3 linked regions of the Homo sapiens genome follow. The protein of the gene in region 2 interacts with the protein of the main gene of each other region in a pairwise test. Each region holds a gene or a part of one and is shown on either strand. Other genes may lie near its edges.

Evidence for each region.
Region 1: the proteins of TLK2 (region 2) and SMARCC2 interact in binary tests that used the Homo sapiens proteins (3 or more experiments, as listed by UniProt).
Region 3: the proteins of TLK2 (region 2) and FEZ1 interact in a two-hybrid assay, tested with the Homo sapiens proteins (one study listed by BioGRID).

What each region holds. Positions count from the first base shown.
Region 1 is NC_000012.12:56,171,771-56,176,906, reverse strand, and holds part of SMARCC2 (SWI/SNF complex subunit SMARCC2), read left to right. Parts: intron 1-2,142; coding exon 2,143-2,256; intron 2,257-3,057; coding exon 3,058-3,211; intron 3,212-3,877; coding exon 3,878-3,970; intron 3,971-4,202; coding exon 4,203-4,322; intron 4,323-4,416; coding exon 4,417-4,479; intron 4,480-4,969; coding exon 4,970-5,136. UniProt on the Homo sapiens protein: Involved in transcriptional activation and repression of select genes by chromatin remodeling (alteration of DNA-nucleosome topology).
Region 2 is NC_000017.11:62,596,738-62,601,920, forward strand, and holds part of TLK2 (serine/threonine-protein kinase tousled-like 2), read left to right. Parts: intron 1-3,913; coding exon 3,914-4,083; intron 4,084-5,183. UniProt on the Homo sapiens protein: Serine/threonine-protein kinase involved in the process of chromatin assembly and probably also DNA replication, transcription, repair, and chromosome segregation. Phosphorylates the chromatin assembly factors ASF1A and ASF1B.
Region 3 is NC_000011.10:125,461,053-125,466,188, forward strand, and holds part of FEZ1 (fasciculation and elongation protein zeta-1), read right to left. Parts: intron 2,519-5,136; coding exon 2,432-2,518; intron 1-2,431. UniProt on the Homo sapiens protein: May be involved in axonal outgrowth as component of the network of molecules that regulate cellular morphology and axon guidance machinery.

The sequences.
Region 1 (5,136 bases), on a different chromosome or scaffold from region 2:
GAGGTTGCAGTGAGCCGAGATTACGCCATTGCACTCCAGCCTGGGCAACAAGAGTGAAACTCCGTCTCAAAAAAAACAAAAAAACAAAAACAAAAAAAATTAGCCGGGCGTGGTGGCATGCATCTGTAGTCCCAGCTAGTCTGGAGGCTGAGGCAGGAGAATCACTTGAACCTGAGAGGCAGAGGTTGCAGTGAGCCGAGATCACGCCACTGCACTCCAGCCGGGGTGACAGAGCGAGACTCCGTCTCAAAAAAAAAAAAAATTAGCTGGGCGTGGTGGCAGGCGCCTGTAGTTCCAGCTACTTGGGAGGCTGAGGCAGGAGAATGGCATGAACCTGGGAGACAGAGCTTGCAGTGAGCCGAGATTGCGCCACTGCACTCCAGCCTGGGCGACAGAGCAAGACTCCGTCTCAAGAAAAAAAAAAAGATTTTGCCTCAGGCCAAACCTGCTTGGCTTTGGATAAGACATGGCAGTCTTCTTTGGTTAGGAATACTTCAAGATAACCACATTGATGAGGTGGGTGAGACTGAGAACTGAACAAGTTTTCTTCCCAGCTATTCCACAGCTTCCCCTCTCTGGGGGTCCCTCCGTGTTTTTTCTTCATAGCTTGCTATGGTTCTCTCTTCCTTCTCTTCCTGGAGAAAGCAGTATGTGTGAAAAGAAAGTAGTGATCAGGTGAAATGAATTCAACATGACATGCAGGCAGGGTTGGAGTAGGAACTGAACTCTTGGTATAAAATAGTAAATGATGGCTGGGCATGGTGGCTCACGCCTGTAATTCCAGCACTTTGGGAGGCCCAGGCGGGCAGATCACGAGGTCAGGAGTTCGAGACCAGCCAGGCCAACATGGTGAAACCCCGTCTCTACTAAAAATACAAAAATTAGCTGGGTGTGGAGGCACGCACCTGTAATCCCAGCTACTTGGGAGGCTGAGGCAGGAGAATCACTTGAGCCCGGGAGGTGGAGGTTGCAGTGAGCCAAGATCTCATCATTGTACTCCAGCCTGGGCAACAAGAGTGAAACTCCATCTCAGAAAAAAAAAAATAGTAAATGATGATAATTGCCTGCATCTATTGAGAGCTTAGTATCTCCCAGGCACTATACTAAATGTCCAACCTACATTGAGTAATTTAATCTTTACGTCAACCTTAGAGGTAGATATCATCTTCAGTTGACAGATAGGGTATAGAGGAGTCAAGTCACCTGCATAAAGTCACAGAGCTAGTAAATAAAACCAGGATCTGAATCCTTTAATCTGGCCCATGATCTGAAACTTTACACTGTACCACATGATAGCTGCCATTTTTTTGAGCCCCTACAATGCGCCAGGCACTATACTAGTACTTTATAGACCTCTCAACAGACATTCCATTTTACAAATGAGGAAACTGAGGTTTAAAAATTCGAAGTAAATTGCCAAGGTCCTCATGGTAGAACTGGGATTTGAACTTAGATCTTTTCAACTTCAAAACATATGTTTTTTACCGTGGTATGCTGACTAGCTATATGCATGAATAAGGACTTCCTTTTAACATCTGAGTTTGGAAATGAGTATTTTCTTAACTTCTAATTCCTTGTTTAAAAATTGTATAAAATGGCTAGGTGCAGTGGCTCATGCCTGTAATCCCAGCACTTTGGGAGGCTGAGGCAGGAGGCTCACCTGAGGTCAGGAGTTTGAGACCAGCCTGACCAACATGGAGAAACCCTGTCTCTACTAAAAATACAAAATTAGCCGGCCGTGGTGGCACATGCCTGTAATCAGAGCTACTGAGGAGGCTGAGGCAGGAGAATCTCTTGAACCCAGGAGGCGGAAGTTGCCATGAGCCAAGATCATGCCATTGCATTCCAGCCTGGGCAACAAGAGGGAAACTCCATCTCAAAAAAAAAAATTGTATGAAATATCCCTAAGTATAGCCAAGGAGATAATTCATTTAAAGAAAACCCCATCAAGGAAAAGTAAGACATATTTGAAACCCTTTCATCTAGCACATAGCAGGCACTCAGCATGTAGAGTCAAATAATCTACTTTTTTCCATCTTTATCATGCAGGAGAAGTCATTAGCTCTCTTACCATTTTTTCCTTTAGCCCTTTAACAAACATTTATTTTTCTTCTTCTTGTTTCTCTCTCTCTTTCTTCTAAGCTACCTGGCCTATCGAAACTTTATGATTGACACTTACCGACTGAACCCCCAAGAGTATCTTACCTCTACCGCCTGCCGCCGAAACCTAGCGGGTGATGTCTGTGCCATCATGAGGTGGGTCTTGTGGCTGAGGGGAAGGGGGTACATGAGGATGCCTGCCTATGGATGTGTTTTGGCAACAGTAGAGATGCCAGCAAGGAACACAGAGGAGCAGACAGAAAAAAGCACCTCTAGAGAAAGGTGAAGTACAGGTTTGGGGAATGAATGACTTGAGGGATTAGCAATGGCATTCTCTGAAGTGTAGAATATAGGACAAAGAAGGAGCATGTCTGTAATTGAAAGATACTGGTTCAGGCCAGGTGTGGTGGCTCATGCCTATAATCCAAACATTTTGGGAGACCAAGGTGGGAGGATTGCTGGAGCCCAGAAGTTCGAGACCAGCCTGGACAAAATGGCAAAACCCCATCTCTAGAGAAAATGCAAAAAAATTAGCTAGGCATGGTGGCACGTGCCTGTGGTCTTAGTGACTCAGGAGGCTGAGGTGGGAGGATCCCCTGAGCCCTGGAGGTGGAGGCTGCAGTGAGCGGTGATCACACCACTGCACTTCAGTCTCTCTTAGGGAAAAAAAGAAAGAAACTGGTTCAGTTTTACTAGCTATTCAGGAAGAAATGTTCGGTAGGTAGGTAGATATAGAGATTGGCCCAGGCTGAAGATGTAGACTTGGGTGTCACTGGCATTTAGGTGATAAATGAACAACTGGAGTAGGTGAGATTTCTTAAGGAGTACAATGAACAGAGGAAAAGGCCGGGGTTGGGTGGGGAGGGGGTTTATGCCCCTTCTACCCCCCACTTTTCCTCTTCCTCGTGCACCTTTCTGGCTATCCGTGTGACCCTGTCTCTGCCTCTCTCTGCACAGGGTCCATGCCTTCCTAGAACAGTGGGGTCTTATTAACTACCAGGTGGATGCTGAGAGTCGACCAACCCCAATGGGGCCTCCGCCTACCTCTCACTTCCATGTCTTGGCTGACACACCATCAGGGCTGGTGCCTCTGCAGCCCAAGACACCTCAGGTAGGGTGAGGTGCTATGGGGATGGGGCGGGTTGGGAAGATTGGGCTTCTTTGAACTTTTCTTTTTCTGGTTTTTAGGGTAATGGTTCAGGAGTGTTTTGAGGCTTCTTCCTTTTCCATGGGATGCAAAGGGTCACGGGAATCAGCCCCATGTGTTTAGCATCCTCTCTCAGCCTTTGTACCTAAGGCTGTAATTGCTGAGGGAGAAGAGATTATCCTTTTACTCAAGGAGTAGACAGGCTAATGTAGGGGAGTCAATAGAGAAAAATGGCTTAAAATTAACTTGCATGAAATTTTTAAACTTTGTCATCTTTGCCACATTTTTTCATTTTTGCCTCATAATTATCATCTTCATTTTTTTTTCCATTTCCACTTCATCCATTACAAAAATTAGGAAGAAGGTTATGTGGCTTGCCCAAGGTCACAGAGTACCAAATCTAGGATTAGAACCTAATTGTCCAGCTCCTAAGAGAACCTATAAAGATAATGTGAATATGTATGGATATCATGCCAACGACATGTCTTATTAATCATGAAGGGAACATGGAACAGTGGCATGAGTGCCCCCAGAGCTTGTGGGCCGCCCAGCATATGGTCTTGAGGCCTCCAGGGCCTTGGCCTGGTCATTTCCTGCCCAGCCTCCATGACGCCAAGCTCTGTCCCCCAGGGCCGCCAGGTTGATGCTGATACCAAGGCTGGGCGAAAGGGCAAAGAGCTGGATGACCTGGTGCCAGAGACGGCTAAGGGCAAGCCAGAGCTGGTAGGTGGGGTGCAGACCCTGCTGGGCTGCTCATTTTCCCCTTTATTGGGGGGCCCCTGCCCGGGAAGAAGAGACATGAGAGCAGAGGAACTACAGCAGTAAGGGAGGAAGTCCCACCCAGGGGTGTCCCTGGCTTTGGGAAAGAAGCTCCTTCTGTCTGTTTTTTCTCTCTGTCAGCCCCTGGCTCCCGGTGGTCACTTGTACTCACCTGTTTCTTTCCCTCCACAAATAGCAGACCTCTGCTTCCCAACAAATGCTCAACTTTCCTGACAAAGGCAAAGAGAAACCAACAGACATGCAAAACTTTGGGCTGCGCACAGACATGTACACAAAAAAGAATGTTCCCTCCAAGGTAGGAGGTGCGGGCCGACTCTAGGGGTAGAGAATGTTCGCTCCTCAGAGGTCACAGGCTCCTTTCTTCTCACCTGCCTGTGTTTCCCCTGCAGAGCAAGGCTGCAGCCAGTGCCACTCGTGAGTGGACAGAACAGGAAACCCTGCTTCTCCTGGAGGTAATTGGGGCAAAGAAAAGAGAGTTTTTCTCTGAAAACAGAAGTGGGCTCCGTGTAGAGGCTCACGCCTGTAATCCCAGCACTTTGGGAGGCCAAGGCAGGAGGATCACTTGAGTCCAGGAGTTCGAGATGAACCTGGGCAACATAGTGAGACTCCGTCTCTACGAAAAATTTTAAAAATTAGCCAGGTGTGGTGGCACACACCTGTGGTCCCAGCTACTCAGGAGGCTAAGTGGGAGGATTGCTTGAGCCTAGGAGGTCAAGGCTCCAGTGAGCTTCAGGACCAGCTCCAGGCTGGGGATTTGGGCCATTTCATTAACTTCATATCCTTTCTTAGTGCTACTTCAAGATCCCCCTTGGACCTAGCAGAGTACACAAATACCAGAACATAGAGAACTTTGAAACCAGCTGCCCTTAGTAGGATGGGGGGAGTCAGCCTTCGAGAAAAGTGGCTAAGTAAGCGGAGTTATGTCTCCACCACTACCACCAGGCACTGGAAATGTACAAAGATGACTGGAACAAAGTGTCCGAGCATGTGGGAAGCCGCACACAGGACGAGTGCATCTTGCATTTTCTTCGTCTTCCCATTGAAGACCCATACCTGGAGGACTCAGAGGCCTCCCTAGGCCCCCTGGCCTACCAACCCATCCCCTTCAG
Region 2 (5,183 bases):
GAATAGAGCTGAACTCTGGGTCCAGGACATACCCTCTGAGGGAACCAAGTAATTTGTGACAAATGATCAAACATAAATTCAGATTTGGATCAGCAAGAAACCTCTAGGCCAAAGGACATGTGCACTTGTGTGCCAGTAAATGTTTAACAGCCAGCTTGGTATGAAGAGAGACAGGGCTAATTTATAGTGTTTGCCAGTTTCCGTGGTGTAGATATTCCTCCTGTGTCTAATTTTGATGTACCACCTGTTTATTTTTGTTTTTTTTTAAACATCTTAATTATAATTCACATACTGTATGATTCACACATGTAAAATATACAGTTTAGTGGTTTGTAGCATATTCATAGATACATGCAACCACCAGAGGCAATTTTAGAATTTTTTCACCATCTCAAACCCCATCATACCTTTTACTACTATTCATCTATTCCACCATTCCATCCCTCTGCCCTAGCCCTAATCTGTCTGTTTTATCTTTATAGATTTCCTATTCTGGACCCTCATATGCATGGAATCATATAGTATGTGGACTTTTATTACTGGCTTCTTTCACTTACCATGGTGTTGTCAAATTTCATCCTTGTAGCCTGTGTCAGTACTTCATTCCTTTTTATGGCAAAATAATATTCCATTGTGTGGATATACCACATTTTGCTTATAACGGTTTGATAACCAGCTCACAAAATTCTTGAAAATTTAAGTCAGCTCTTGGAAACTGGCATGAGTTGGTGCCAGCATGCCACTGACGTGCACTAGTGAGTGTAGACTGTTCAAGAGAGTTTCTGCTCACCCCAGAGACTCTTATGAACATTGACAGACCTTTTTAAAAAGTACTGGCCGTGTGATTTTATCCTAGACTGAGATAAGAAATGTGGCACTAATGAAGACAAGGCTCAGTGCTACATGTTGAAATACAGGCTCATAGGCTTATAGGATGTTAGAATAGGAAGGGATCTCAGAGTCCAGCCTTTTCATTTTATAGGTGGATTTTGAGGACCAGAGAAGTTAAATAACTTGTCTGAGATAGTTATTAATTGTGGGCATTGCTATATTTTGTTACTTGGTATAGGTAACCTCCCGTGCCTCTGGGTTTATCCAGCAGTTTAGCTGGATATATCTCAGCATTTGGAAATGTTTCTCTGTAGAAGTCTGAACTGAATCAGAATATACCCTAGGTCTAGACTTCAGGTTCCCTCAGCCTCCCAGGGTAATTCTAGGAGTTTTGGTCTGTTCTAGCCAACAGTCTCAGATATGGCTGTGCAGACAGCTGCCTTACATTTAGAAATAACCCCAAAGAGGACTATAATTCCCTTTGGAAACATGACCTGGGCCATTCTCTCAGGGATTTCTTCTCATTTGGGTAGCCCTGGCACTGAGCTTAGCCATGTGTGTTTCACGTGGAGTGGAATTTTTTTAAAAAGATCTAGTTAGAAGGCAGGATTGGGAAACAAGGGGCGGGGCATGACATTACTGTTTTGCCTTGAGCAAATTTCTTGAATACTAGGTAGACCCCCCTCTCTGAACTATTAAGTTCAAGAACTATTTCAAAGTTAAATATCAGGCTCAAATTATCTGCTGTTTTGAATTGTATACACACTTTTAACTAATGTGAGAAATTGAGTTGGTTCTATACTATTCTTGAGTTGATTACTTTGTTCTTCCTATTGTATGTATGATGAATTTTCACCAAAAATAAGTCAGACCATGATTTTTAGAACATCTTCTGAGAATTGTTTGGGTATTAAAAGTGAGGCTTTATTTTCTTTTCTTTCTTTTGTTTTGGTTGTTTTCCTTTTTTTTTTCCTGAGATGGAGTCTCACTCTGTTGCCCAGGCTGGAGTTCAGTGGTGCGATCTTGGCTCACTGCAACCTCCACCTCCCAGGTTCAAGCGATTCTCCTACCTCAGCCTCCCATGTAGCTAGGATTACAGATGCACGCCACCATGCCTGGCTAATTTTTGTATTTTTAGTAGAGACAGGGTTTCACCGTGCTGGGCAGGCTGGTCTTGAACTCTTGACCTTGTGATCCGCCCGCCTGGGCCTCCCAAAGTCCTGGGATTACAGGCTTGAGCCACCGCGCCTGGCTGAAAGTGAGGCTTTATTTTCAACTTGCATTTGGGTGAAAGAATCATTCCATTGAGCATGAGTCTATATTTCAGATTTCAGAATCTCAGATCAGAGGAATCTATAAATTTCAGACATTTCTTTTTTTAATTTTATTTTATTTGAGATGGAGTCTTGCTCTGTTGCCCAGGCAGTAGTGCAGTGGCATGATCTTGGCTCACTGCAACCTCCACCTCATGGGTTCAAGCAATTCTCCTGCCTCAGCCTCCCAAGTAGCTGGGATTACAGGCATGCGCCACCATACCTGGCCAATTTTTTGTATTTTTAGTAGAGACAGAGTTTCACTATGTTGGCCAGGCTGGTCTCAAACTCCTGGCCTCAAGTGATCCACCCATCTCTGCCTCCCAAATTGCTGGGATTACAGCAGACATTTGTTTTCAAATAGGGTGTTAGCATGCCCTGCCATGTTTCTTAAGATACATAAGATATTGTTCAGTTTGTGGTGTCCACAGGACCATGTGTGTCCATGTTCAATTGCAGTGCTTTATGAAGGCCTCAAATTGCTCAGTGGCCCATAGCGCTAGACCTGAGTCTGTTTGCTCTCAGTTCTGTTCCTCGCCCTTTCGCTGCTCTGTATCTTTGGGGGGTTAGCCCGTGTAGGCTGTGTTTATCAGGCCCATGTGTCCATTGGTGTTCTGTTGGTTTCAGCCAATGGGAAGGCAGAAATGGGAGGGGGTCTCCACCTCCTCTCCCTCCCCGCAATTCTAGTTTCCCCTGATGACCCTGGGTTCTGGTTTCACCATCTCCTCCCTTCTGGCCTGCTTGCCTGAGGGTGCTAATGGCTTCCTGCTGTAGATGATCTCTAGGGTGCCTCACTGACCAGTTTGTCTTCTCAGCTCTTCCATCATCTGTATGATCAGTTCCCTGAATTAAAGTCTCTCTGTTTTAAATGTTCAGGTGGTTTTTTTTTCCAGGCTAAACTGACTGATACACCCACATTGTCACAACTTAGAAAACTTCAAAACGTATTCATCCCTCAGGAATATTCAAACAGTTCAGGACACCTTACTTCAGAGTATAATGCCTTGGAAGATAGACACGTGACCTGTGATGCCACCAATGGCATATGGTTTTATGTATGGGTCTGTATGACATATTGACATAAGGGAAGGAAAGAGAACCCACATACTTTTGTTAGAACCATAGATACTATACTTTACAAGCTCTTTTACACCTTGTGTTTAAGAGAAATTGTAGTGCAGTATTGTGCCAAGCTGTCAGAAGACGTAGTATGCAGTCAGTTTTTGGGACGTGGGCAAACTCTAGATTCTTACTCATTGCCAGCACTCAGGGTTATATAAAATGTTTGCAGTGCGAATTGTGTACCTAGCCAAAATTGCGCCACTGCACTCCAGCCTAGGCAGCAGAGTGAGACGGAGTCTCAAAAAAAAAAAGAGAGAATTGTGTACTTGATCACATTCTGGTTGTTTAGACGTGGATGTGTGGCATGGGTGTGTAAAGGAGCCCCTTCCAAGAAGATACCTAGCTTAAATACATTATAGTTCTTATCAGTATTCTTATAGTCTAGACTCAAGAAGAGGTCTGCCATGGGTGAACTTGAGCACAACAGATTCCAACATTGAGGGTGTGGAAACTCTTCAAGAGAATAAGCAGTTTCTTACCAGAAACCCCTCAGCTAATACTGAATAAACAATTGAAGAGTATTTTAAGGAACAAAGAAGAAAGGAGTGAGAAGCTGATGACCTGAAGTTTTCACATGGGACTAATTTAGGTAGTGTTAATCTGCTTGCTCTTATTCCATGGTTAAATATTGGTTTATTTGTCTTTAGGTTTTGTACAGTATTAGAATACTGTGAGGGAAATGATCTGGACTTCTACCTGAAACAGCACAAATTAATGTCGGAGAAAGAGGCCCGGTCCATTATCATGCAGATTGTGAATGCTTTAAAGTACTTAAATGAAATAAAACCTCCCATCATACACTATGACCTCAAACCAGGTATGTCTAACTTTTAGGAGACAGTATTAGTGGGTTTTCTTTGGTCTTATAAGTGACTTTTAATTTGATAAAGTTAGAGAATTTCACAGCAGCCAAGAAAGGCTAATAACATCTGACTTTTGATTGCCTGGGTAGGTGTGGGAAAAAAGAGTCCTGGCCAAGCAGCACTGGGTTTAGGAGGGCGTGTTGGATTAAATACTCTGGAGAAACAATACCTTTATCTTTGGAGCCAGGGCAGTTCATGATGTAAGTCTCATTAAGAAAGAACTGTTGCAGCAAGTTCAGTTTTGTTTTTTTCCCATGACTCCTACTACATAACAGTCCCTCTGCTTCAGGTCTCTTTGATAAGAGCCCCCAAATTAATAACTTATTTTTACTTATATGCCTCCCATTTCAATAAATTTCAAGCAGAATTTTTCATCTTTTTGTATGGTTATTATCTAGCTTTGATGTTCATCAGCAAAGAGTACAGGGCAGCTAGAGTCCTTACCTCTATTTTTTATTGTTATCTTCAGCTGTGTTTTAGAAATCTGCATAGTTCTATAGACAACTCTAACAGCTTAGCTTGGGCATTAGGAAGATGGTCCACATTTACCTTCTGGTGTTGCAAAATTGTAAACTTTGCTTTACTCTTCTGGTAGGTGCATATTGCGTCTCATTGACTATTCTCTAATGTTCTAATACAATTCAGATGACTAAAACATTAATTATGATGAAGAAATTTTTTAAAAGATGGCTATTTTGTGAATGAATTTTCCATAACTGAATTCAACACTTTCCTGCAATGGGAGCTGTAGGCGGTGCTGTGGTGCTAGCTTTGGTTTCCTTACATGGTTTCTTTGATTCCTCCCCCACACCCCAAGTGCTGTTCTAAACAGGGTAGTTTAGAGATCCTCACTGAAAGTTCAGATGAAAGTTTCCCATCAGTTTTGACCAAGTGAACAAGGGTATTTTACTTTGGCCAGTTATTTTTATTTCCAGAGCTCATCATAGTGGTGGTTTTGGCACATTAAGCAGGTGATTCTTGGAAAATAGAAGTTTCAGCAGATGCTGAGGACTCTCCCTGAGTATCCAGAGTCCAGATTGCTTGATTCCCAGGA
Region 3 (5,136 bases), on a different chromosome or scaffold from region 2:
TAATACACGTGACTGTAAAAAATAGCGTGCTCCTAGAACAACACAAAATGGGGAGGAAAACAACTATTTCTCCAGAATTCACCTAGACAGGAACTGAAGCTGCCCAGCAACAAATGAAAATAGAGATAATGAAATAATAGAAGGATAGGTGGAGTCTAGAGAGCAGCAAATAGATAAGAACCCCAGCTCTAATCTAGACTATTGACAGGAGCCAGCTCCCAGAAGTGGAGGGAAAATTAGATATCTGCCAAAAGGAACAAAAGTGAATTACTAGCTGGGCATGGTGTCTCATGCCTGTAATCCCAGCACTTTGGGAAGCCGAGGCAGGTGGATCACTTGAGCTCAGGAGTTCAAGACCAGCCTGAGCAACATGGCGAAACCCCATCTCTGCAAAAAGCAGAAAAATTAGCCAGTTGTGGTGACGTGTGTCTGTAGTCCATGTTACTTGGGAGGTTGAGGTGGGAGGATGGCTTGAGCCCAAGAGGTAGAGGTTGCAGTGAACCGAGACTGGGCCACTGGACTCCAGCCTGGGCAATAGAGCCAGATCCTGTTTCAACAACAACAACAAAAAAAAGAGTGACTTACTTTGTACATTAATTATTTACAAATAAAGAAGACTGCTGCTGAAAGCAGGTCTTTAGATGAGTTTTGTCCCAACCTTCACCTTTGTCTGTTCTCCATGGATGGACTAAAGTCCCCGAGGCCAGCATTGTACTCTTTGAGGTGGTTTCTTCACAGTGGGCTGGACCAAAGGTAAGGGGTTTCAGGGTCTCCTCCTTTAGAATAATTTCCATTCTTATTCCCAAACCTTTTCACCTCTACTCACAAACTTAGGAAATACCCAGTCTTTGACTACTGAAAGCCATTTTACAGAATGCAACCAAATGACACAAGTCCCTGTCAGGGTCTTATGGCTGAATGTCCTTTTCTCTAAGAGGAGTTATAATTGAGTTCATATCATTGAATTGTAGATCCTCCTACAAGTCACAAGAATAGCTATTAGCCCCTATTTTTAAAAATCTGGTTCTCTTCAGTCTCCTAATCCTCACGTGTTTCAATTCCCACCTTTCTATCACAGATATGAAAAAGCACCATTGCTGCTAAAAAAGCACTTTCTGGCACCGAAGGCTGCCAGTGGAGCTTTGCAGAAAGACTTTGTGGAAACTTATGTAGTGTTTAGCTCAAAATAAGCACCCATAAATATTTGTTGACTAAAACATTAAATAAGGAATCCAGAAACTGAACATTATCCTCTCTAAGTAATAAATTATTAAAGCTATGATGATCTCAATTGAATGCGAAGCACTCTATCTTTTTTCACAAAGTCGAAGTGGCTCTAAGACTCCTTTCGGAAGGCCCAAAATTTTGAGTGTTCTATGAAATGTAAGAAAATATCCATCACACAAAAGCCTCATCTGTCACTTCTCTTTTTGGGAAAACAGGTATTTGGGACCCTTGTTTGAGTGTCTTGACTCCGAGTACAACGAATTTCAATAAGAAGGCTTAGCAGGATTGTAGCTACTAAACACTATGCCTGTCTCTGGCTCCTATCAGAGACTGACCCCAACTATCCCAAGTGTCAAGAATGACATTCATGTTCACTGCAGGTGGGCAACCTGAGGCAGAAAGAGAGATGAAATCCCTTATCAAAAATACTCTGAGTTGGACAGTCACCGTGGCTCATGCCTGTAATCCCAGCACTTTGGGAGGCCAAGGCGGGTGGACTGCTTGAGTCCAGGAGTTTGAGACCAGCCTGGGCAGCATGGTGAAACCTCATCTCCACTAAAAGTACAGAAAATTAGCTGGGCATAGTGATGCATGCCTGTAGTCCCAGCTACTTAGGGGCCTGAGGCGGGAGGATCGCTTGAGCCAAGGAGGTTGAGGCTATAGTGAACCCTGATTTTGCCACTGCACTCTGGCCTGGGTGACAAAGTGAGACCCTGTCTCAAAATGAAAAAAAAAAAAGGTCAGGCACAGTGGCTCATGCCTATAATCCCAGCACTTTGGGAGGTTGAGGTGGGCAGATCACTTGAGGTTAGGAGTTTGAGACCAGCCTGGCCAACATGGTGAAATCACATCTCTACCAAAAAATTTTTTATAAGAATTAGCCAGGCATGGTGGTGCATGCCTGTAGTCCCAGCTACTCGGGAGGCTGAGGCAGGAAAGTCACTTGAATCCGGGAGGCAGAGGTTGCAATGAGCCAAGATCACGCCACTGCACTCCAGCCTGGGCAACAGAGCAAGACTCTGTCTCAAAAGTATATATATATAAAGAAAAAAAAGAAACAAAAAATACTCTGAGTCATGAGCACAGGCACCACATGACCACATATCTTTCTTCTGCCTTAAATGGATGTGGCAAGTGTGTTCTCTTGGACTTTTTCTCCATCAAAAGAACAAAAGGTCCCGATAACCTGGAGAGATACTTATACCTGATCTGCTGTGAGCAGAGGCTCCTCGTTGATACCGGAATCATTTTCACTCTTCTCATTGAACTCTTCCTCTTCTTTCTCATGGATCTGGAGAGGAGGTGGGGAGATGGAATTCTGGGTGACCATCAGCAGAAGTGGGATTGCCTCTAGTCTCGAGAATGGATGATACTGACTGGGAGGCCACTCCAGCCAGCTGCTGTCTAAACAGTGGAGCTGAAGAGGTGTCCAGAGTTTCATCCAATTCCAAACATATCTTTGCCCCATCACTAACTCCAGCATGCCAGAAATCCAGCATGCAGCACTGAATCCAACTTGGCAGGAAAAGACGACAGGGGAATGGCCAGCACCATTCTGACTCAAAGGGGACAGCACCGTTTTTTAACCCACAGACAGGTCATCCTGGGGTGAACAAGGCGCCTTCTCCAGGTAAGTGACACTGCAGCCAACTGCAGCAAAGGTGCCCTGATTTTGTTAAGGAGTTCCAACCTGGGGGGTTGTTTCCAGATTTCGTCTTACTAGGCATTTTAAGGAATAGGTTGTTCTAGTCCAAATAATGATGACTTTCAGAATTTGATGAAATGCCATCCTGTTACTGGAATCCAGGCATGATGTCATAGCTGATGGCAGATGTAAGAAATCTGCATGGGACATGCCACTGAATAACCTGACCACATGAACTAAACAACAACAAAACTACAAAAGAGAACCCCATTTATCTCATTTGCCCTGTGTCTCTATAATTCCATAATCCCAAGTAAGATCCTCAAAGTTCACAGCCATCAAAATTCTAGATGTTTAAATCTAACAAGCTATTCAAAGCATATCTGGCTTAACTGACCATATCCCAAACTGCCATAGTCTGGCATTTACATTCAAGTCCCACAGAAAAGTTAATCACTAAACACCTAACAAGCTGTATGTCTAGAAGTCTGATTTGAACGTCATACAAGGAGGAGGCAGGAGGTGTCTCTAGGAAATCTCTCTGCTGAGTCACCTCTCATCCAGGAATGAATCCTCCTTGCGCTCCAGTAGCTGGCACACCGATTGGCCCCTTCCCTGGGGCTTGTATTCTGCCTTTTCTAACAGGAAACAGCCCAGCTCCAATCCAAGCAATAATGTCAGAGGTAGTCTATCCTCAGAAACTTCTCCCGTCTTCTGTGAGCTTTGCCTTGGCAGACATCCCTAACAGAGCACATCACCTTTTATCTCCATTTGCTTAAAACCAGGACTATGTCATTAAAAAAGAAAAAAAAAATTAAGCAAATATATCTCAAATGCCATCCGCACTCAACCTAGATATGGGGTAGGACAGGGAGGTAATGGAATCATCTGAAGGGCCCGGGTACCAGATGGTGACATCTATTTCCGCTGTCAAACCCATATGCTCCTCTCTCTGCCAAGTCCACCACCTGCGATAGCCTCGTGGTTTCCACCGCTCCCCACTATGCAGAACAAAACTCCTGGAGCTACGCTTTGTTCACAACTACACTCATATGGAAGAACTTTCTTCAGGCCAGAAAATCCTGCAGTAGAAGTTAGCCCAAAATTAAGAGAACGAAGATACATTTTTTCCTCCAGACAAAAATTAGGGGAGAAAAAGGAAGAAATGTATCAATATGAACCCAGCCCAAGTTAGTGTGAGCCCAAGTTAGGCTCATCCTGGGAAACAGGGTTATTTTTCATAAGCATCTAACAGCAACTGTTAGTCTATAACCAGGATTTGGCAGGGGGTAGGGGGTGGTGGGCACTAAGTCTATATAAAAATGGCATGTTTACCTTTTCTGAAATGTGGCTGATTGTAGTGGGTTTAACTCCCTGACTGTTAATATTGCTTCTTTCAACTATATCATCTCCTCCCTCCCCAAGTTCCTCACTCCTTGGGGAGTTCCAGGAAGAAGGCAGGGAGGAAGCTTCTAGGGATAGATCCTTCTTGCTGCTCAAATGCTAATAAGCCTGGGCTGTGGCCGGAATGATGCACTAGTAGAGTTTCTCTCCCCTCCCCCTCTCAGGCGCAAAGCCTCCAGGTCTGAATTGTCAGGCTTGGGAAAACAGAGATGGGAAAATCAATTATAAGCTTATGAAAGGTACTGTGAGTTCCTACTCTTATGGGAACCATACTCATCCCTTATTTTCTTATTTCTCAGAAGTCTGCCACTAAAAAATAAAATAAAAGGAGAGGCAGACATAAAATACGGCCAAGAAAACCCTGGCTCCTTCCCTCTATGTGCGGGTTACCCCCTAATCCTTGGGCTTCCCCACCTCCATCGTGCCCCAGCCTCTTCACCTCCCTCTCCAGCGTTTGATTCTGATCCTCTCACCCTTCCCACCCTCCCTAGGCCTGGTTCCCACATTTTCTGTCCATCCTGCCAGACTTTGCTCTGTTCCAACAGCATCCATCACTTCACAAGCCCTTGCCTCTTTACGGGCACTGTTTACAGACTCCTTCCCTCCCCTCCTTGACCAGGACAGTATCTTGTGCACAGGGTGGAGAGCTGGAGGGGAAACAATGACAGAGGAAGAAAGAAAGGTTTTTGAAAAATGACAGCCCTTGTGCATATAAATACTCTTAATCCTAGCATAAGACACTGACATAGATATCACGGTAGAGAGTTCCTTTAGCCCCTTGTGCAGCAGTGGGGAAGATACATGTCAAAAATAACTTCAGGCCAGGTCATTTAGGGCTGAATTTCTTTGTCAGCTAAAAC